Regions from separate parts of the Homo sapiens genome. Here region 2 is linked to region 1. The links come from fine-mapping of genetic effects on gene expression. A gene starts in region 1. The other region holds a variant in brackets. All regions are shown on one strand. Distances are from middle to middle. Region 1 holds the start of IL6-AS1 (IL6 antisense RNA 1). Region 2 has its middle 52 kb from the start of IL6.

Region 1 (10,564 bases):
TAAGCTTCACGTGACACACTCAAAGTTGCTGAATTTTTTAAAATGCCATTTATTGGTATAAAAACCATTTATACATTATATAAATACAATATAAATATTTCTTTAAAAATATGTATAAGTTAGCCATTTATTTGAGGTAAGCCTACACTTTCCAAGAAATGATCTGGCTCTGAAACAAAGGATATTCAAACTGCATAGCCACTTTCCATTATTATTTCAAAACTAATACATAAAATGTTTCAAGTGGTACTTCTTAAAAATATAAATATGACTTACATAAATTAACTCAGCTTCACATATTTAAATATTAATAAATTAAAAATAATTAAAATAGTGTCCTAACGCTCATACTTTTAGTTCTCCATAGAGAACAACATAAGTTCTGTGCCCAGTGGACAGGTTTCTGACCAGAAGAAGGAATGCCCATTAACAACAACAATCTGAGGTGCCCATGCTACATTTGCCGAAGAGCCCTCAGGCTGGACTGCAGGAACTCCTTAAAGCTGCGCAGAATGAGATGAGTTGTCATGTCCTGCAGCCACTGGTTCTGTGCCTGCAGCTTCGTCAGCAGGCTGGCATTTGTGGTTGGGTCAGGGGTGGTTATTGCATCTAGATTCTTTGCCTGAAGGAAAATGAAAGTAAAAAGGATTGTTTAAATGTTGAATAAATCCTTTGCAGTGGAGGGATGCTCTGGGCTATGGGATGATGTTCAAATGTGAAATGTGGGGTGAATGAGATTAACTGGGGTGCCTGCTCTGAGTAGGACCCTTCCATAGCAACAAACTTCTTTTTTTTTTTTTTGAGTCAAGGTCTCGTTCTGTCACCCAGGCTGGAGTGCAGTGGTGCACAGCAACCTCTGCCTCCTGGGTTCAAGTGATTCATGTGCCTCAGCCTCCTGAGTAGCTGGGTTACAGGTGTATGCCACCATGCCTGGCTAACTTTTTTGTATTTTTAAGTAGAGATGGGGTTTTACCATGTTGACCAGGCTGGTCTTAAACTCCTGGCCTCAAATGATCCACCCACCTCAGCCTCCCATAGCGCTGGGATTATATCAGCACTGTGCCTGGCTCACAGCAACCAACTTCTAATCATCCCTTTGCTGTTCTGTCTCCCATTAGACCACAAGCATCCTGAGGGAAGCACCACTATCATTTTTGTTTGTTTGGTTTTGGTTTTTTGTAGAGATGGGGTCTTGCTATGTTATCCAGGCTGGTCTTGAACTCCTGGCCTTAGGAGTTCAAGGAGTTCTCACCTTAGGCTCCCAAAGTTTAGGGAATACAGGCATGAGCCACCAAGCCTGACCAGCATCACTATCTTATTTGTTTGTATTCTGTCATATGAAATAATGCCTGGCACATAGTTCATATTTAGTATATGAATGAAGAGCCCATACTTAAAGGCATTTTAATATGGGTTCTTCAGTGGCCTCTAAATCTGATACTTTTCTCCAGTTTCCCTCTCACCATCCCTTTAGGATCTGTTGAAAGACCACTGATCCGGTGGTGTAAAGAGGACTGGGAAACACCTTTCCATAGACCCACCATATGGGATAAGTAACTTGTGGAAGGCCTTAAACCTCCAAGTGTGGTCCTGGAATTCTGCAGCATCACCAGGGATATAAGCCTGGTAGAAATTTGACCCTCAAACCCACCCGAGGCTTGCTAAGTCAGACTCCACACCACAAGAAGATGCCCAGGGAATTCCCATGCATGTTAACATATGAGAAACCCTGGCTTAAGTAGAAATGGCAGAGGCAGGATCAGCACCAAGGGTTTCATTCTAGGCCCCTTCTTATTGAGCTTTGGCTCCTCCACATGCTAGCCAGCAAGTCTACTCCCTGCTGTCTGAATAGCCAGCTACTGGTGGCCAAAGCCTTTGGTACCTCTTTCCACCCTTGAGTCTCTGACCATTTCTCTGAACTAACTCTCTGGTAAAAGGTAGGAAAAAGAATTGAAACAACCACAGTGAGAAGAATGTCACTTGGCAATGACTAAAATCTTAAAATCATTTTGTGCTCCTTGGTCTTTGTTTCTGTGGATCACTGGCTGGAGTTGGATGCACTTTTTTCTGCCCGCCCCCCCGCCTTTGGTTTTAAATCTCTTGCACTATTAAAAATTGATGTTAAAATCCACCTCAGTTAATATATAGTTTAAAATACAGTTATTGATGTCCTTTGCAGAAGAGAGCCAACCAACCAAACAAACAAAAAAAGATTTAACAATAACAATCAGAAACTATTTCTCAGACTCTTTTGTTTACGTGTAGCCTTCTCTTTTGGAAGTGGCATTGCATCCCTGAGTTGTCCAGGACACTGTCTTTGAGCCTGTCTTCCCCCACACCAAGTTGAGGGAATGAGGACACACCCACCTTTTTCTGCAGGAACTGGATCAGGACTTTTGTACTCATCTGCACAGCTCTGGCTTGTTCCTCACTACTCTCAAATCTGTTCTGGAGGTACTCTAGGTATACCTCAAACTCCAAAAGACCAGTGATGATTTTCACCAGGCAAGTCTCCTAAGAGGAAAGATGGTGGGAAAATTGGTTATCGCCAGGAGATAGAATCAATTTGAAAAGTTAAAATTGCCACAGTTCGACATCTTTTCCCTCTGCTCCTCTAGAGAACTTCAAGTACCTCTTAGGCAGCATGTTTTGGGACATTGGACAGCACCATTTTAAATAACTGGACAATCAGAGGCCCCATGTAATTAGTTTTATCCAAAGCCCAACAGATGCTAGAATGTGGCAATGGGGATCCTTCTCTGATTGTCCCCCTTGATGTTCTTCCTGCACTCTTGCCCTTGTTAATGCTGGGCTGGAACCTCCTTTTATAAAATAATCAGAAGACAGTGCAGGTTATCTCACTGTGGAGAATGAGCTGGGCAGGGAGGGAGGGCAGACCTGGACCCTGCCAGGGGCAGCCAGAGAGGGAAAAGGCCCTGAGAGTACCTTTCCCAGGATGAACTAATTAAACCTGTGGGAGTTTTAAACATTTGACAGTTGTTAAAATCTCACCACAGTGGCACCATCTCTGGCCATACCTGTCCAAGAATAAACTGCCTTTAAAAAAGCTTGAAGTTGGCCTCCTCATGAAATTTACATAACATTCTTTACATTTACCCACTTTTTGTTGCTGCCTGGATCTATATGTATACAGGCACTGCATGCAAGAGGGAGAAGTTTTGCCTAAGGAATAGTGAAAAGTGAGTGCGACAAGTTGGTACCTCATTGAATCCAGATTGGAAGCATCCATCTTTTTCAGCCATCTTTGGAAGGTTCAGGTTGTTTTCTGCCAGTGCCTCTTTGCTGCTTTCACACATGTTACTCTTGTTACATGTCTGGGAAAGAATACCAGAATTGTTATCACCTAAGTGTCCCTAAAACAAACACCACTAGAGGGCCTTTTCATTGTTCAACCACAGCCAGGAAAGTCTCTAAGAAAAATGAAGCTACAACTCATTGGCATCCTGGCAAGCAAATTCCAGTGGAGTGGGGGCACACTTGGGTTCAGTTCCAAGCTCACCTGTGACTTTAGGTGTGTTACTTAATCCTGAGTCTCAGTTTCCTTATCTCCAAAAACCTTCCTTGCAAATTTGTTTTGAAGATTAGACACAATATTTATTTAAAGTGCCTGGCACACAGTAGATACTTAATAACAGCAATTTTGACAATAATTAGGAGAATATAATTCAAGCCATAGAATGTTCCAGCAGGAAGGATCTATGAGATCACCTAGTCCACGCCCAATTTTACTGATGGAGTCCAGAGGTGGTAGGGAATTTACCCAAGATCACAAGGCTGGTTTGGCAGAACCAGAATTCGAGTGTGGGCTCCCAATCTCCCCTCCTGTGTTCTTTTCTTTCTACCAAACAGGACCAAAATACCTTGCATTGAAAGTGGGGAGATGCTTTAACCTATTTATGATTTGCCACTTTGGTGGGCTCTGAGGTATGAATCTTAGCTGGAATGGCTTTGAGGAATCCTAGCCATTGAGTTTACATAACCAAAAAGTACTGCAACTGCTCTGAGAAGCTGAACATGCCTTTCAGGTGGCACTTTTCTAGTCCTTCCAAAGCCCGGGGGACAAAAAGGAGCTTCACAGACCTAATTTTTTGGAAAGGGAAAAGGAAGCCCTGAGAAGCAATAACCCTCAGCTCATGCCAAAGGTGGGCATGGATTTCAGACCCATTCTGCATTTTCCAGAAAGGAAAGGAACTTCCTGACACCAGCAAAGGATAAATACAGAAGTCAGTCTAGTCGGCCCCGTTGGCCTCAAATCTACAGTGCTCTAGAACCCAGCAAAGACCTCCTAATGCAGGCAGCCCCCGGCCACACGCAGGGGCAAGGGGAACGCATGCGCACCGGGCCCTTCAACCCCATCGCCAAGCCTACCCACCTCCTTTCTCAGGGCTGAGATGCCGTCGAGGATGTACCGAATTTGTTTGTCAATTCGTTCTGAAGAGGTGAGTGGCTGTCTGTGTGGGGCGGCTACATCTTTGGAATCTTCTCCTGGGGGTACTGGGGCAGGGAAGGCAGCAGGCAACACCAGGAGCAGCCCCAGGGAGAAGGCAACTGGACCGAAGGCGCCTGTGCCGGAGGGGAGCGAGCGCAGGGGTGAGCTGACAGCACAGCTGGGAGCCTGCCTCTGCTGCTGGCCGCCCGCCAGCCCTCCCTGGGCCACACACCCCTCCCTCACACAGGGCTCGACCGCCGCTGGCAGTTCCAGGGCTAAGGATTTCCTGCACTTACTTGTGGAGAAGGAGTTCATAGCTGGGCTCCTGGAGGGGAGATAGAGCTTCTCTTTCGTTCCCGGTGGGCTCGAGGGCAGAATGAGCCTCAGACATCTCCAGTCCTATATTTATTGGGGGTTGAGACTCTAATATTGAGACTCATGGGAAAATCCCACATTTGATAAATCTTTGTTGGAGGGTGAGGGTGGGGCCAGAGCGGGTGGGGCTGATTGGAAACCTTATTAAGATTGTGCAATGTGACGTCCTTTAGCATGGCAAGACACAACTAGGGGGAAAAGTGCAGCTTAGGTCGTCATTGAGGCTAGCGCTAAGAAGCAGAACCACTCTTCCTTTACTTTCTTTTTTTCTTTTATTAGTGACTCAGCACTTTGGCATGTCTTGACAAAGAGTAAAGCTGAAGTCATGCACGAAGTTTTACAAAGAGAAAAAAAATAAGCTAAAGCTATGTTTTTTGAAAAAAAAAAAATTTTTTTTCAGTGACCAGATTAACAGGCTAGAATTTAGCGTTCCAGTTAATTTGTATTTGTAAAAACCAAAGATGTTCTGAACTGAGTTTCCTCTGACTCCATCGCAGCCCCCCAAGCCTGGGATTATGAAGAAGGTAATACTACCAGTCATCTGAGTTCTTCTGTGTTCTGGCTCTCCCTGTGAGCGGCTGTTGTAGAACTGCCTGGCCATCCTCAAATTTCGTGCAGTTACTTCAAGGCGTCTCCAGGTGGAGTGTGTGACTCCTTTTTGCCACCGCGTGGCTTCTGCCACTTTCTTCACCTGCTTCAGCCCACTTAGAGGAGGTTGGCTGCTGCCCTGCCCTCTCCCAAGTGACCCCTTGGGAATCCTCCCAGTGAGGACTTTGCTCTCTGTGCCAGAGGTTTGCCTTGTGCTGCCAGTGCTCTCCCCATTGCCACTGAGTCTCTTCACCACTGTTTCACTGGGGCACCTGCATGGGCCCCAGGTCTCCTGGAGCCCTGAAATTACTGAAGCCCACTTGGTTCAGGGCAGAAAGGGGGAGAATACTACTCACCTCTTTGTTGGGGATGTCAAAGGAGGACCTTGTGGCATCTTGCAGAGTTTGTGTTTATCGCTCCCTCTCCCTGTAAGTCTTGATTTGAAATCAAAAGAAGCTAGAAGGAAACTACGGACGCAGGCACGGCTCTAGGCTCTGAATCTGCTTCCGCGTCGGCACCCAAGAATTTCTTATTGGGTCAAGCTGGTTCAGAAGCCCTCTTCCCTCAGGATGGTGTCTCTTGCAGGAGGATCCTTGGTCTCATGCAAATGGGCTCTAGACTAGGTTGTCCCTCCAGTCTCCAGAGACCCAGACAGCTCTGAGATGGCTTCAGGCTGAAACCAGACCCTTGCACAACACCAAAACACTTATTTACCAAACATGGTGTTACCTTCACAATCGGTTTCTTTGCTTTGCTAAGAAGAGATCTCTTCAAGATCGATAAAACAGTGACCTCTGTTGGGCATTTACTCAAGTTTTGTTTCGTGCATAACATTTCAGGACCCGCCTGTTGGGGAAAGTGAGGTCATCCATTCTTCACCGATTGTCTAAACAGAGACGGTGGTCCTCTGCCGCGGTGGGATTCTTTGGTGTGAAAATGAAAATGGGGGAGGATGGCTGGATGGTTTCATTTTTAGTGCTCTCCTGTCTTAAGCAACGTAGACACTCCTGAACCAAGTTCTCTTTCCTGCATGAAACGAAGCCACTGCTCCCAGCTCCGCAGCCGTGCACTGTGATCCGTCTATGTAATGTGAGCTTGCTTTTACTCAACTATCTATTTTTTAGAAAATACAATTCAATAAATTTCAAGTACTTGAACTGAGTGACACAATACAACACACAGATTTATCTTTTCAATAAAAAGTGTTTTTTAAATAGGAAGTTCGTGTTCATGATAAAATGTTCAAATAGGACATCAGGGCATGCAGGGAAAAGTGTCTCCTTCCTCTCCTGGCCCCTTTTCCCAGAGGTAGCACCTAATTGCCTGTATTTTCAACCAAATCCTCTGTTATCCTAGCCTGGGAAAGGTTTTCTCGTCTTCCCAGCTGTTTGATCCTGGCTGTTACATCAAGGACCTGTGCCCTTGTTTATTCACCTATAAAACGGGGGTAATAATAGTTCTTCCTTTCTAGGGCTGTTGTGAAGATGGAACGTGATGCAGTGTAAAAAATTCCTGGCGCATAGTAATCCCACAATACATGCTAGCTCTTTGAACATTCCTTGGCTCAGAGTCTCTGCCTTGGAGAGCTCTTCCAGCTCGGCTATATCGGTTCACCTGGTGTCTTGCCTATGAAGGAATTATGAATGAACCAGGCCTCTGTGCCAGCAATGAGCTGGTCTCCCAATCATTTTCCCTCAAAAGAAATGAGATTCTATGTTTTGTTGAAAATGTTTTATGGCACAAAGTGCAAAATGAAAAATAATAATAATTTTCTTTTTTGAGAACATTAAGATCCCCAAACCAGGTCTCTTGTTTTAGATAATTAGTCCAGCTTGCGTCTTGCTCCTACTAGACTTTTTCCAAGCCCTCCACTAAGTGTTTTTATGTCAGAATTCCACAGCCTTCCCTGTGCATGGTGATTGCCATTAATTCAAACTCCTGATAGTGGCCCTCGAGGGTGAAGGGGCCTGATGCTTCTGGGGTCAAGAAAGGGCAAACTGTGGGAAGGCATGTGTGTAGGGAGCTTGGAGACACTGTCTGCCCCCTGCACATCGCAGCATGGCACTTTATTAGTATCAATGCTTTGGGCTGGAATTTGCTTGTGGGAGAGATGAGCTCTACCTTGCTCCAAAAACGTTAATGTAACTGACATGTGCAATTCCACAATGATAGCTTCCTTCCTTTGCATCTCAATGGATTTTTCGCGTGGAGAGCTCATTCTTTGTTTTTTCTTGTTTTGTTTTGTTTTTTCTCTTGAGAAGGAGTCTTGCTCTGTTGCCCAGGCTGGAGGGCAATGGCATGATCTTGGCTCACTTCAACCGCCGCCTCCCAGGTTCAAGCAATTCTCTTGCCTCAGCCTCCTGAGTAGCTGGGACTACAGATGCATGCGACCACGCCCAGCTACTTTTTGTATTTTTAGTAGAAACGGGGTTTTGCCATGTTGGCCAGGCGGGTCTTGAACTCCTGACCTCAGGTGATCCACGCGCCTCGGCCTCCCAAAGTGCTGGGTTTACAGGCGTGAACCACTGTGCCCAGCCCCTTGTATTTTTTAAAGGGCAGCTTTAGGTCATAGCAAAATGGAGAGGAAGGTACAGAGATTTCCCATATATCCCCCTCTCCCCCCAACTCTCCCCCGTATTTTAGTATGAATACGTGACCAGAAAAGGCTGTGCTGTCAGCATTTATTAACTAATACTTTAGTTGCTGGATTGCATCATAGCTGATGTGAAGTGAGCGCCAGCTGAGATCAAGAGAGGCCAGACAAATGGGAGTGCACAGGGAGGAAGCAGCAACTTGGCTTCCTATGCCACCAGTGTGGGGCTGGCATGTCCTATCTGGATCTCCCAGAATTACTGCCCATGACTGCTTTCTTACGTGATGGTGGAGTCCAGTTCAGAATCTAGTAATACATTTGAGACCAAGGGGGAAAAGTAGCTTCCATTTGGTACTTAAGCTCTCAGGAGGAGAAGTGTTCTCCACGTCTCAGGAGTTAAGATGTAGTGTTGTGCTCTTTCTCTATATTCTGGGGGTTGGAGATGGATGAGTCTGTGATTTAACAGGAGGGAGTACAGCAAGAAAAAACGGGAAGTCCTGGGTACTAGGGAACTTGCAGTTGCTGCCAGAATGTAGTTTCACTTGTTGCCAAGTCGTAAGAAGTTTGTAAACTGAAACAGTGGGTGATTTAACAGCTTCTTCTGGGGTTGAGTCCCACTGAGCAGACACCAGGCTCTAAGGCTCTGGGAAATGTCCTGCTTTGATGGTGGTATTACTTGAAGAGAGAATTTTAGGGACATGTGGTGTGTCAATTTAGAAAGAGCCAGCTGATGTTGGAGGGCAGCCAGGCCTGGTGACCAAAGCTCTTGACAGTTTCCTGCCTGGTCTGGTCTCAGTCCTGGCTTTGCAGCCTCAGCTCTGATGTCCTGTTGTAGCTCCTTGGTCTGGTGAATTCTTAGTCTGGCCTCAGCTTTTCTGAGGGGGAGGATGTTCAGGGGCTGGACCTAGCTCCTCCTAGACTAGAGAAGGGGCACATCTGCCCTGCTGTGTTTCTCATTCAAAACTCTATAGGGAGGTCATCTGTTCTGTGCCCTCATTATTTTGCTATGTGACTTACCTTCCCCCTGCTGAAGTGGAAAATCCCAGGCATCTTGGGAGGGAAGTAGCCTCTCCGGGGGCAAAAAGTGTAGATTCTCTTTGCCTTGGGACACCCCCGTACCCCTTTCCCTGGGTCTCTAGGCTTGGAAGAGAGTGCCCTGATTGCAAACTTCTCTGAAGCTAGTTTGCTGATGAGAAAAATGGCTTTGCTGGTCCTGAAGAAGCCCCATTTGGCCCTGCCCCCATGGCTGGGGAGGTCCCTCGGACTGAGTTTCAGTGCTTTGCCTCTTCTCCATCTGTGGGGTAGGCTTTCTATGGTGGTGGCCACTGGTTCTGCTTTATAATTAGGAAACTTCAATTTGTCAGCGAGCAGTAATACGTTCATTTATTATCACGAGTCATTTGAGCCATCTTTGGTTTCTCCAAAGATCTCAGTTCTCTGAGTTCAGTGTCATCAGCAGAAACTAAGCATGCAAAGCATTGGCTGGTTTCCTCTACTCTTTTCCCTCAAAATTAAGGTACTAAGAACCCATTTGAAATCATCACATGTAATGGCCAGACCAGGGGATTCTACTGGCCTGGTTATGACGTCTTTTACCTCCCTTCCTTGCCCTTTTGGTTAGTTATTTGCTAAAAGGAGAGTGTCTTAGTCCCTCTGAACTAAGCCTCCTTAGCAAGCTGAATCCATGAAGAGAGGCCATTCTAGTCTTCATGGTGGAATAATTTCCACGAAATGCTTTGGACATGTTGAGGACTCTGACTCTGTAATTCTGAGACATTGGGGTCCATTATTTCTGAAGATGGGTACACCTGGATTGATTTAAAATGTTATGGAAGAATTCAGATCCAGGTAAGCAAGTTGAAGAATCATAGGCAATTTCTTCAAGCTATTGAATTCTATGTCATGTGTACCTATGTATGTGTGTGGATGTCTGCGGCACAGAGCAGAGCCCTTGGTCTATAGACCTACCATAGATATTGTTCCAAGGGGTGCTGCCTGCCTCATATGAGTGTGGCCTTACAGGCCTGGGTACCCAGAAAGCCTGGACCGGCCATCTGCTGTCACTTTTCTCCCAGGCCTGCAGCCCTTCCTGTGCTGCTGGATCTGTACAGTGGTCTATGTCTGAGCCACATTACTGTGTCCCCCAAGGGCACTGTGGGATTCCCTATATCTCTCACCCTGGAAGCCATATTTTCTATGTGCTACTTTTCTGTGGGTGAGACGGGGGTCGGGGAGAGGTGGGGACAGGAGGGAAGGCACCCATCAGCTTGGCAAGTGATCTGGATGTGTGGAAATGGCTTCCTATTGCTAAAGGCTTGTTTGGAGGCTTGCTGCCTAAGCAGTTGCCACCAAGTGCCTCAGATCCTCCTATCTCTCTAGGACAACCAATAGAGAGGCTGTCATGCACATTCTTTCTCTGTGTTAAGTTTGTCCACCATGGGCCCAGTGAAACTACTGAAGACACCAGGTATGTAGTCAGGGGCAGGTCAGGTGTCAGAGGGAAATTTGAGTCCTGGGCTGTTTCTGTCTGACATTGTGTGGGTAATCGGTTGGCCAGG
Region 2 (10,564 bases), 52 kb after region 1:
ATTATTAGGTCCTTATAAAAGAAGTAATTGAGGGCCAGGCGCAGTGGCTCACGCCTGTAATCTCAGCACTTTGGGAGGCCGAGGCAGGCAGATCACTTGAGGTCAGTAGTTTGAGACTAGTCTGGCCAACATGGGAAAACGCCGTCTGTACTAAAAATACAAAAAATTAGCCAGACATCGTGGTGTGCGCCACGATGTAATCCCAGTTACTTGGGAGGCTGAGGCATGAGAATCACTTCAACTCAGGAGGCAGAGGTTGCAGTGAGCTGAGATTGTGCCATTGCACTCCAGCCTGGGCAACAGAGTGAAACTCCATCTAAAAAAAAAAAATAGTAACTGAGGACTAGACGGGTCAAATGACTTGCCTTTGATCACAGAATAATTTTGGACAACTTACTTAGACTTTATGAGCCTTCAATCAACTGCAGATTGAAAATAATTTGGAAAAAAAGCAATGGTTTCACCTGTACTGAACATATACAGACCTTTTAATCTTGTTATTATTCCCTAAAAATATAGTATAATGACTATTTACATAGCATTTACATAGTATTAGCTATTATAAGTAATATAGAGATGATTTAAAGTATATGGGAGGATATGTATAGGCTGTATGCAAATTCTATACAATTTTATATAAGGAGCTTGAGCATCCATGGATTTTGGCATCCGACAGGGTCCAGGAATCAAGCTCCCACAGATACCAAGGGACAACTGTACTGTGATTTATTTATTCACGTTCCTACTGATAGACACAGACTATTTCCTGTTTGTTTCTTCAAGTATTGATGTACTTCATTTATTATGTATTTATATATTATGTATTTATGTTTAGTGAATATTTCTTCATCCACTTTTATGAATATATCTTCAGAATAATTTTTAGCAGTAAAATTACTGGACTAAAAGTTATTTGCATTTAAAATTTTGATAGCATGATCAGTTTTCCCACAAAGACGTTACACCAATATGAAGAAATTTTCTTTTATAGCTGCCCACAAGTGGAATGGGGGAGATTTGGAGTAAAGGTGGCAGATTGAACATACCTTTCTAGTTCTTTCTCTCTCCCCAAACCACTCAAACTAAAATAAAGACTGTTTTTAAGTGGCACAGACCCACAAGGATAGGAGAATGAGACAGGAGCTCAAGCAAAAATATTTCGAAGGTAGCAAGTGATGGACAAATGGTAACCAACTTAACACATCTGGGCAAGGTGAATGTTAAGCTGGTAGTGGGAAACGTTGTGAAATCCTTGATTTTAACTTTGAATCTTTCAAAAACTTTGGAATTGGTGGCACCAGCTACGTATCTATGGATACAGAGTAAAGAGAAGTTGAGAAGTAGTTGGAGTGCTGGGCCTCTCCTTCCAACAATTCAGCGATGCTAGAACATTGCTCCATCCTCACTTTAACCTTAGCAGAAGCCTGGAGGTTTTTTTCTCTAGAAATGATAAAACATAGTCTTTGAACTGTGGATTCAAGCATAGGTGAAGGCAGTGGCCGAGGTATTGTTCCAAAACACCCTGAGCTCTTAGACTCTGTCATGCAGGACTCCAGTTTCCAAACAGAAGAACAGAAGAGCATACCCTTCCATATCTGACCAGCCCAAGAAGAAATACTTGATGTTTCTGAGGTTGGAGGTTCCCCCAGCAAACAGCTCAGCTAGATTAACCTTCCGTGGAGCCAAAATTGGACAGCCATATTCAAAGATCAGAGCTTCCAATCAGCTTTTTAATCCCTCTATTAAAGAGTAGACAATCAAGGAATAGCAGACCACTGAGAATAGCCTCAAATGAAAGATAAAGACCAAAACATTCAAATAAACAATGGGAGAAAGCTAACTCAGAGCGGGGAAAAAGGATTATGCAAGCAGAAGAAACCTTCAAGGAAAAAAATTATTAATATTTTTATAGATAGAAAATAAAATATTTTAACTGCAAAATGAAAATTGGATGCTAGAAAACATAATTAACAAAACAAAAATAAGCTCTTGGAAATTAATAATGACATCAAAAATGAATATTTCCATAGAATGGCTGGAAGGTAATGTTGAGGAAACATCTCAGAAATTAGAAGAGAAAGAAAAGAGACAGAAAACAGGGGAAAATAAGTAAGATAAAATAATTAGAGGATCAGTACAGGAAGTACAGTATTTGAATACGAGTATTCAAAAGAGGAAACAGAGAAAACTGAAAGGAGGAAATCATCAACAAAGTAATTCAAGCACATTTCCCAGAACTAGAAGACATGAGTTTCCTGACTGAAATTGGAAACTGAATGTGGTGCTGAATGCCGACCACAATGCAAGAAAATAGACCCACACCCAACATAGCATTGTGAAATTTCAGGACACTCAGGAAGATATTAAAATCTTCAAGGAGGCCAGGCGCGGTGGCTCATGCTTGTAGTCCCACCACTTTGGGAGGCTGAGGTGGGCGGATCACCCAAGGTCAGGAGTTTGAGACCAGCCTGACCAATATGATGAAACCCCGTCCCTACTAAAAATACAAAAATTAGCCGGGCGTGGTCGTGGGCGCCTGTAATCCCAGCTACTAGGGAGACTGAGACAGGAGAATCACTTGAACCTGGGAGGCAGATGTTGCAGTGAGCTGAGATCGCACCATTACACTCCAGCCTGGGCAACAAGAGTGAAACCTGGTCTCAAAAAAAAAAAAAAAAAAAAAAGCTTCAAGGAAGACAAGACAGGTCATATACAAAGAACCAGCTACCAGAATGACTCTAGACTTCTCAGTAGCAACAAGAGAAGCTGGAATACAATTTTGAATCAAGTTATGGTAGAATAAAGACATATCTAGCCTTGAAAAGATTCAAAAAGTTTACCTCCCACACAGCCTTTCTCAGGAAGCCACTCTGGCACCACTAAAACAATGGAGAAAACCAAAGGAGAAAAAGACTGGAGATACACAAAGTGGGAGAAGGGTAAAGGGAATCTCCAGAAATGGTAAAGGAAAATTCCCAGATGGTAACTCTGCACCAGGCTTGGAGGTAATCAGTTCACATTAGGATAGGCCCAGAGGCTCTGAGAGAGGCTTCTTCAAAGAGGTGAAATGGCTTGAATATCCGATGTGTCTGAATGTCTTGAGAGGAAATTCAGACATTTGGCAGAAAATTGAGGGTTTGAATTACTGATAAATACATGAAAAACTAAGTGAAAACAAAAAGTAAGGTTCTTCAATTAATTTCAGGGAAACACAAGAGTTGTATAGAAGAGGAGAAATAATTATGATTTACCCCATGACTCAGCTCTGAATAGTGTTTATGTAGTTATAATAATGTGAACACTAAATACTGATCTAACCCAAATCAGTACATAAACTATGTTGGAATAATAAGAACATGGAGAGGGTGTGTGTATTGTGTATGCGGAATGAAATAATGAAATCTTCATCCAACATTGTGGGTGGTTAGTGGAGAATACCTAACACGGAAAAATAAAGAAATAGCAATACAAGCATGTTATTTAGAAATACAGAGGTAAATCTTTCTAAAAGAATTACCAAAGAAAATTGAAAGTGGGTGCCTCTAGGGAAGGACTTCTGCTTTTCTTAATGAATCTTACAGATTTGACTCAACTATGTGCACAGGTAACTCTGATTAAAAAAGAAAAGAGTGTGCCATCTCTGGTGTATTCTTTGTCCCTGGGATGTTTGAGAAGACCTTTTAGGAGTGTGCTATAAAGGTGATCCAAGCATCCTGAGGGTGACTGGATGAAATTCCTTAGTTTCTTCCGAGCCTGGAGGTTGATGGGCTTATGATTTTCAGTAATGAAACTATTTCCAAAGCACTTGATGTCCTATGGAACTGTGGAAAATTTCTTCCTTAAACTGAAATATAGCCCCAACTAATCTCTACTGTTGATTCTGGTTTTACTACTTGGGTCATAAAAAACAAATCCAATCCCTGTTCTTTATCAGCCCTCTTCAAGCATGATTAGACTGTTTTCATCTAAAAACCATTCCTCACACCCACTGTTATGGTTTTTGATCTCCTCACATCCTGTTCAACTTCCTGTGATTACATTCCACTTCTGAAGTGTGTGTGTGTGTGTGTGTGTGTGTGTGTGTTCAAAACAGAACATAATATTCCAGTTGTGGCGTGACCACAGGACACCTCCTTCTTGATTATAAAGCTCATCAGTCAAGAGTAGAGACTTCAGAGTCAGCCAGCCTGGGTTTAGGCCTAGCTGTTTTTTGTTTGTTTTTGGTTTTTTTGGTGAGACAGAGTCTCGCTCTGTTGCCCAGGCTGGAGTGTTAGTGGCGTGTTCTCGGCTCACTGCAACCTCCACCTCCTGGGTTCAAGCAATTCTCCTGCCTCAGCCTCCTGAGTAGCTGGGATTACAGGCACCTACCACCACGCCCGGCTAATTTAGTAGAGATGAGGCATCACCATATTGCCCAGGCTGGTCTCAAACTCCTGAGCTCAGGCAATCCACCCACCTCGGCCTCCCAAAGTGCTGGGATTACAAGCATGAGCCACCGCACCTGGCCTAGACCCAGCTTTGATACTTCCTGGCTGTGTGACTTGGAATGAGTTATACAACCTCATTGTCCTTCAGTTTCTTTGTTGATAAAACAGGAACAATGTCAGTATCTTCCTCGTGAGATTGTTTTGAGGATTTAGCAATATGATAAATGCCCAGCACTTAGAACAGAGGATGTCAAATAGTAGATGTTTAAAGAGTGTTAGCTATTAATTTTTTTCCTAGAATTTTCTATCAGTGTAGCTCAAGAAACCTATGAATATTTTTGACTGCTTGTTTCAATTAATCAATAAAGCAATCAATTAAACAGCAAACATTTGTTGAGTGCCTCTCTGTGCCAGATGCTGAGAAGAAGGGGAATAAGACCCCTTATCTGGAGGAGTTGATAAGTTGAGTTAGTTAAGAACTAACATCCTTTATATTTGTTTTATTGTCTCTTTTTGAAAAAAAAAAAA[C/AC]ATTTTAATCAAAGGTATACATGCACATCATTTAAAAAGGCATGGTGCTTCATGTCTGTTATTCCAGTGACTCTGGAGGCTAAGGTGGGAGGATTGCTTGAGGCCAGGAGTTTGTGACCAACCTGGGCAACATAGTGAGATCTCATCCCTAAAAATAAAAAATATATTAGCTGGGCTTGGTGGCTCATGCCTGCAGTCCTAGCTACTTGGGAGGCTGAGGCAAAAGGATTGCTTGAGCCGAGGAGTTCAAGGCTGCAGTGAGCTGTGATCACTCCACTGTACTTCAGCCTGGGCAACACAGTGAGACTTTGTCTCTAAAAGAATTTTTTTTTTTTAATTTTAGTTTTTGAAAAAGTTAAGCCAGGCATAGTGGCTCATGCCTGTAACCCCAACACTTCGGGAGGCTGAGGCAGGAGACTTGTTTGAGCCCAGGAGTTTGAGACCAGCCTGGGCAAGATGGCAAGACCCTGTTTCTATAAAAATAATAAATAAATAAATAAAAATAAAAGTATTGTTAAATAGTATTAAAGAAATTACAATGGTTCCCTGTATCACTCTTCACACTCTTTCGTTGCTTCTTCCTAGAGGCAACTACTTTTGATTCTTTTAGCCATTTCTTCTTGCATATACATCTCAGTACTTCTAAATGATATGCCTAGATATACTGTTTGCAATGGTGACTTTTAGACATAATCATCTGTTATGATAGATGAACATCCAACTCTTATACTATCCTTCCTTATTGTTCCCATGCCCCACCCTCCCAAGATAATACAATTTTTGATTAAACTTCTGTATTTACCTAACTTTTTATGCAAATACAATTTCCAGTTGAGCACTGTGAACTATGGTTGCCTTTTCTAGTTTTTCCTGAAATTGTTGCCTTTTTTCCTATTTGCCTAATTTTCTTTGTACCTCTTCTAGCAGACGCACCTTCTAATAGACACCAACATTGGATGGTTTATCACTTTCTTTTTTTCTCTTAGGATAGCCCACTCCCCACCCCACCCCCGATCCCTTTCCTCTTCTGAGTTGAATGCTCTCCAGGCTGTTGCAGAGCTGTCATCTATCTTGAGTCTTTCCTTCACTGTGGACCTTGGAATTCTCTAGATTTTTCTCCCAAGTTGGATTCCTCATCTCTTCTTTTTTGGTTTACTCTCTTATTTTGGGGGAGAACATCCTCCAGTAATCAGGTTAAAAAGGATCTTCCCTTAGTCCCCAGTGTTGTGAAATTTCACAATAATCTGCCTGGATTATTCTGGGCCCTCAGTGGCCCCTTCAGGAAATCTGGAAACTTAAGTCTTTCACTTCTGAGAAATTTGCTTGAATAATTTTACTGACGATTTCCTCTCGTTGGCTTTCTTCTCCCTTGTTTGGAAACTCTTGTTAATCAGATATTCAGACCCCTGGATTGGTTCTCTAATATCTTCATTTTCTTGTTTTTGTTTTCCCCTCTGTCATTTTACTCACCTTTCTAGAATGCCTCAATTCTATTTTCTGGTCCTAGGTTCCTTTTTATAGTTTCCTACTCTTGTTTCAAAGGTATGTCATTGTCTCTTATTTCCCTGAGGGTATTCATGATACTTTTAAAGTTTTAGTCACTGTGTATTTTATTTCCTCCGAATTGCTTTTATCTATTTGTTTTGTTCTCCAGTTTTCTTGCCCTGGGCTTTCCTTAGACATCTGGCACCCTTGGATGTTTGTTCAGGATTAGAGGACTAAAAAGTGGATTGGATGCTCTCAACTTGCAGGCAAGGCTTGTTGACTTTGAGCTTCACTGTAGGGTGAGCTGGAAGCACTGTTTGTTTTAGGAAACTTTTTTGCTTCAGTATTTTCTGACCTTTTTTCATGGACTGGTCAGATTCCTCAGAAAGAAACCTTTCTAATCTCCTGCCAAGGTTACAAGTATGCTGTCACTGTTCTGATGGCCAATTGGGGAAACAGAGCTGGGGAAGAAGGGCTGCGGGTCTCACCATTTTATGGTTTGTGTTACTGTTCTCAAATCAACCGCTGTGCCAATTGACCTCCGGTCAGGAAGGATTCCTTCAAAGAATAAACCTGCCATCTTGTATGGGGGAGGGGAAGAGGACATACTCAGTGATGTGGAGCAGAGAGGGGAATGAAGGCTCTGATTGCTTCTCACACAGCTTTTACCCAGCCCATCCTAGATTGGTTTCTTTCACCGTAACCTTCAGTTTCAGAAGCACTATCTGAAACTGCCAGTTCCTGAGCCTGTTGAGGACTCTGCATTGTAAATTTTGTTGGTTTTCTGGTTTTGCCACTGTTGGCTGAGACCTCGACATTCTATGATGTGCTAAATTATGTCAGCCCTAACTACATTTGAGCTGCATTGTGTATCAGGATTATATTTCTCTCTCTTTCTCTCATTCTGTTTTCTTTATTCTCTCCTTCTGGGTATTGGCCTTCCTGGATGGATCCTGTTTTTAAAAAAATCTTCTTTCCCTTTTCAATCTCTTTGTCTCTATCTTATACTTCCTGTGAGATTTCCTCAAGTTTATTATTTAACCCTTTCATTGAGCTTTTAATCTCTGCTATCACATTTAGAATTCCCAAGAGCTCTCTTTTTAAAAATGATGTCTTGTTTCATGAATATATCTTCTATCTCTCTGAGGACATTAATATTACCTGAAAACATTTTTTTATCTCCTTGTTTATTTCTTCTGAATTTCTTATTTCTGTTAGTTTCCTTCAAGAGAGTTGCTTTTCACAAATATCTTGGCCACTTATTTATTTTTGTTTTTTAGTTATTTTTTACAGATGGGAGTCTCACTTTGTTGCCCAGGCTGGACTCAAACTCCTGGGCTCAAGGAATGTTCCCACCTCAGCCTCCCTAGTAGCTGGGATTACCAGCTTGTGCCACCCCACCCAGCACTGGTCACTTATTTTTAAGGGAGAGGCACTAAAATGTTGATTGGAAGCCTTATTTAGGGGGATTTCATTAGCTGCTGGGCTTCTCTGAAGGGTGATCTGGCAGGTCTCCCATTTTTTTCCATTGGAAGAACTTTAAATGTGCAAAGGCAGGTTTCCCTTTGATATTTAGTTTCCCCTGAGGGGAGTTGTCTAATCTCTTGCCTAAAGGACAGAAACTTGCCTTCCAAGCATTCTGAAGCTGAGCCTCCAAAAGGTTGACAACATGGGCAATATTGGTGTGGATGTGTGTGGACATGTTTCCTCATTCCAGTTTGACCCTATCCCCTAATCCTGTTTTTTGCTGGTATTGCACTCTGCCCACTCTGGTGGCTGGAGTCCTACAGGCAGACTGCCTTGGCTGCTTAGTGTTATTTTTTCTTAAAATTTGTTTTTGTAATGTCCTTTAAGTAGGTTTGGAGGAAATAAACACACATCTTTAACTCTTCAAGTAAAACTAGAAGTCTTGCTTTTATAATGATTCATATCTGCTTGGCCAAATCATGCCTTTCTGAACTTGGGTAATTGTTTACATGGAGCTTCACTTCCCTGCATCTTTTTCATCAGACAAAGCATACTGGAATTTTGATTCTCTCATTTAATATACAAATAAGAGTATTTTGGTGCTGGCTTTCAAGAAGTTGGGCTAGGCTTCCTCAGGATTCTGGAATGTGGGTCAATATATCAACTTCTGCAGGACAGCTGTGGGCAAGAGAAAGAAGGCTGATACATGGAGCAAGTGCACTTGCTGTGTGTGTGAGGGTGAGAGAGGGACATGGATGTGATGCGACCCGAACTGACTTGTATGCTGAAATAACAGCATGCACTCATCCTCAACATGGCACCCCTGCTCTGCTTGGGCACCTCTGGGAAGCTGCACTGATGCCCTTGAGTCACGCTTTGCTCTGCATTTGCATATCCAGATTGCCAGGTCCTCTCCTCCCGAGCAGAGTTTCTTGAGAAAGCCCAGGTGGTGCAGCATGGCCTTTTTGAAGGCTTGCCTGCAACTCCTGCTCCAACAAGAGGTCATAGCCTAATTAAGATAGTGTGGCCAGTGGTAAATCTCAATTCTAACTGGTGAGAACCATTGTTATTACGTTTGAGTGGGAATATAATTTTATTAAAAGCTTAAAAACAAACAAAACTCAAAGAATGAATGATTTCCAAGTTGTATTTAGAAAATTTAGAACTTAATGAATGGTTGCCTTGGAAGTCTTTCGTACCTAGCCACTAAGCAAGAAATACCCATAAAACAGTACTTTGCCAGCTTATCCTAAATTACATCATGATTTTGAAAGTAATAAAAATATTTTTAAAAACTTCTATAAATTACTTAAAGTATAAAGGGGGCTGCTTCCCCAAAGGCTTGGGCAGGGCAGCTCGTCTGCAGATGGGCCCAGGGGTGTAGCAGCACTTCTTATGGAAAAAAAAAAAAGTATAAAGTGGGTTTTCATGAATTCAGACTGGCTGTCATCCTATTAGTTCAAAATGACCCATATTTTCAAGCAGATTGTAAGGTTTTCTTTTGAATTATCTAAGGACACTTTAATGGAACATGAGGAATTTGCTTGCTGTTCTAATCTGGAGCCCAGGAAGCTGGTTTGATGTCAGGGCCAAGCTGTGGAATGGGGTGGGATAGTGCTCTGGTTAAGGTTGGCATTCAGTCCTCAGCTGTCTGTCCTATCCATGTGTTTGCCAGTCTCCATCTACAGGGCAGGAGGGAAGGGGAAGCCAACTTGTTCTGGCCTTGGGTGTATTAGAAAACATCTGCTAAGAGAAGCGTTTTTAATTAGGAGTAGAATACCCCTGCTAACCAGAAGTGGTGTAGATGGAATGTGGAATTTTTATAACAATTCTTAAGAAGTTCTTAAGCTAATATACTTCACCTTCATGATTATTCATAAGCACATTATGAATTATTATTAACTTTGTAAATGTTCAATGGATTTTTTATTTGTGACAATGACATTTATAGAATTTATTTTCCATGCCTTATATGTATTGTGGTTTAGACTTAAGGTAGTTATAAAATCCTTAATTGTATTGCAAAATTCAACTATGACATCATCATTTGCTAATTCATGTTTCCTAAACATGGGAATGAAATTTACTCCCAATAATACTATTGCAATTTTTTAATGTCCTTAGAACCTTAACCTTTTAAATAAAGGGTAAAAATAACACCAGAATGCCTGTTAATATGTAATTTTCTTCTTAGACAAAAACTTTAATAGAACCTTTAATTTCTATCATGGTGAGGACAGAGTTCCTTTATGGAAGTATTGGTAAAATGTTAAGATGTAAAAAATTGAGCCCTGCTTCTAAGCAACTGAAATGAAATGAGTTGGGATTCCGGTGGCAACATCCGGGATTCCAGGTGTTAAGGCATAACACAGCTGGAAGCTCATCTTTCAGAGGTTGCTAGTTGAGGAGTCTTAGTGGAGCCGAAGAAGGGAAGTAAAGCAGCAAGGATCCTGTGGCATGTGAAATGCTGTGTTACTTATCTTTCTTTTTGTAACCATTTATCGTGGAAAATTTCCAGCATGAAGTTACACAAAAGTAGAGAGATTCATATAATGAACCACCGTTGTAAAAACTTATTTTTAACCTAACACCTTCAACCTGGTATGGGAAAAAACAAAGTTCCAAGTATAAGTCCTTTTAAACATGGTAGTACTTAA

The links. PIP is the estimated chance that this variant, and not a neighbour inherited with it, causes the effect.
Region 2: its variant is fine-mapped to the expression of IL6-AS1 in macrophages (Alasoo 2018, PIP 0.95).

The regions. Positions count from the first base shown.
Region 1 is chr7:22,721,464-22,732,027 of GRCh38, reverse strand. IL6-AS1 (IL6 antisense RNA 1) reads left to right here and starts at 4,408. Exons shown (of 2, transcript NR_131935.1): 1 at 4,408-4,460; 2 at 5,323-6,633. IL6 (interleukin 6) reads right to left here and starts at 4,828. Exons shown (of 5, transcript NM_000600.5): 1 at 4,747-4,828; 2 at 4,394-4,584; 3 at 3,222-3,335; 4 at 2,368-2,514; 5 at 30-622. The coding sequence starts at 4,765. The coding sequence ends at 455. RefSeq lists an enhancer at 4,179-5,378 and a silencer at 5,364-5,413.
Region 2 is chr7:22,669,613-22,680,176 of GRCh38, reverse strand. No RefSeq gene overlaps it. Among named protein-coding and RNA genes, the nearest start is that of IL6, 52 kb to the left of the region's middle. RefSeq lists a silencer at 2,153-2,447. The variant C/AC (reference allele first, on the strand shown) is at 4,956.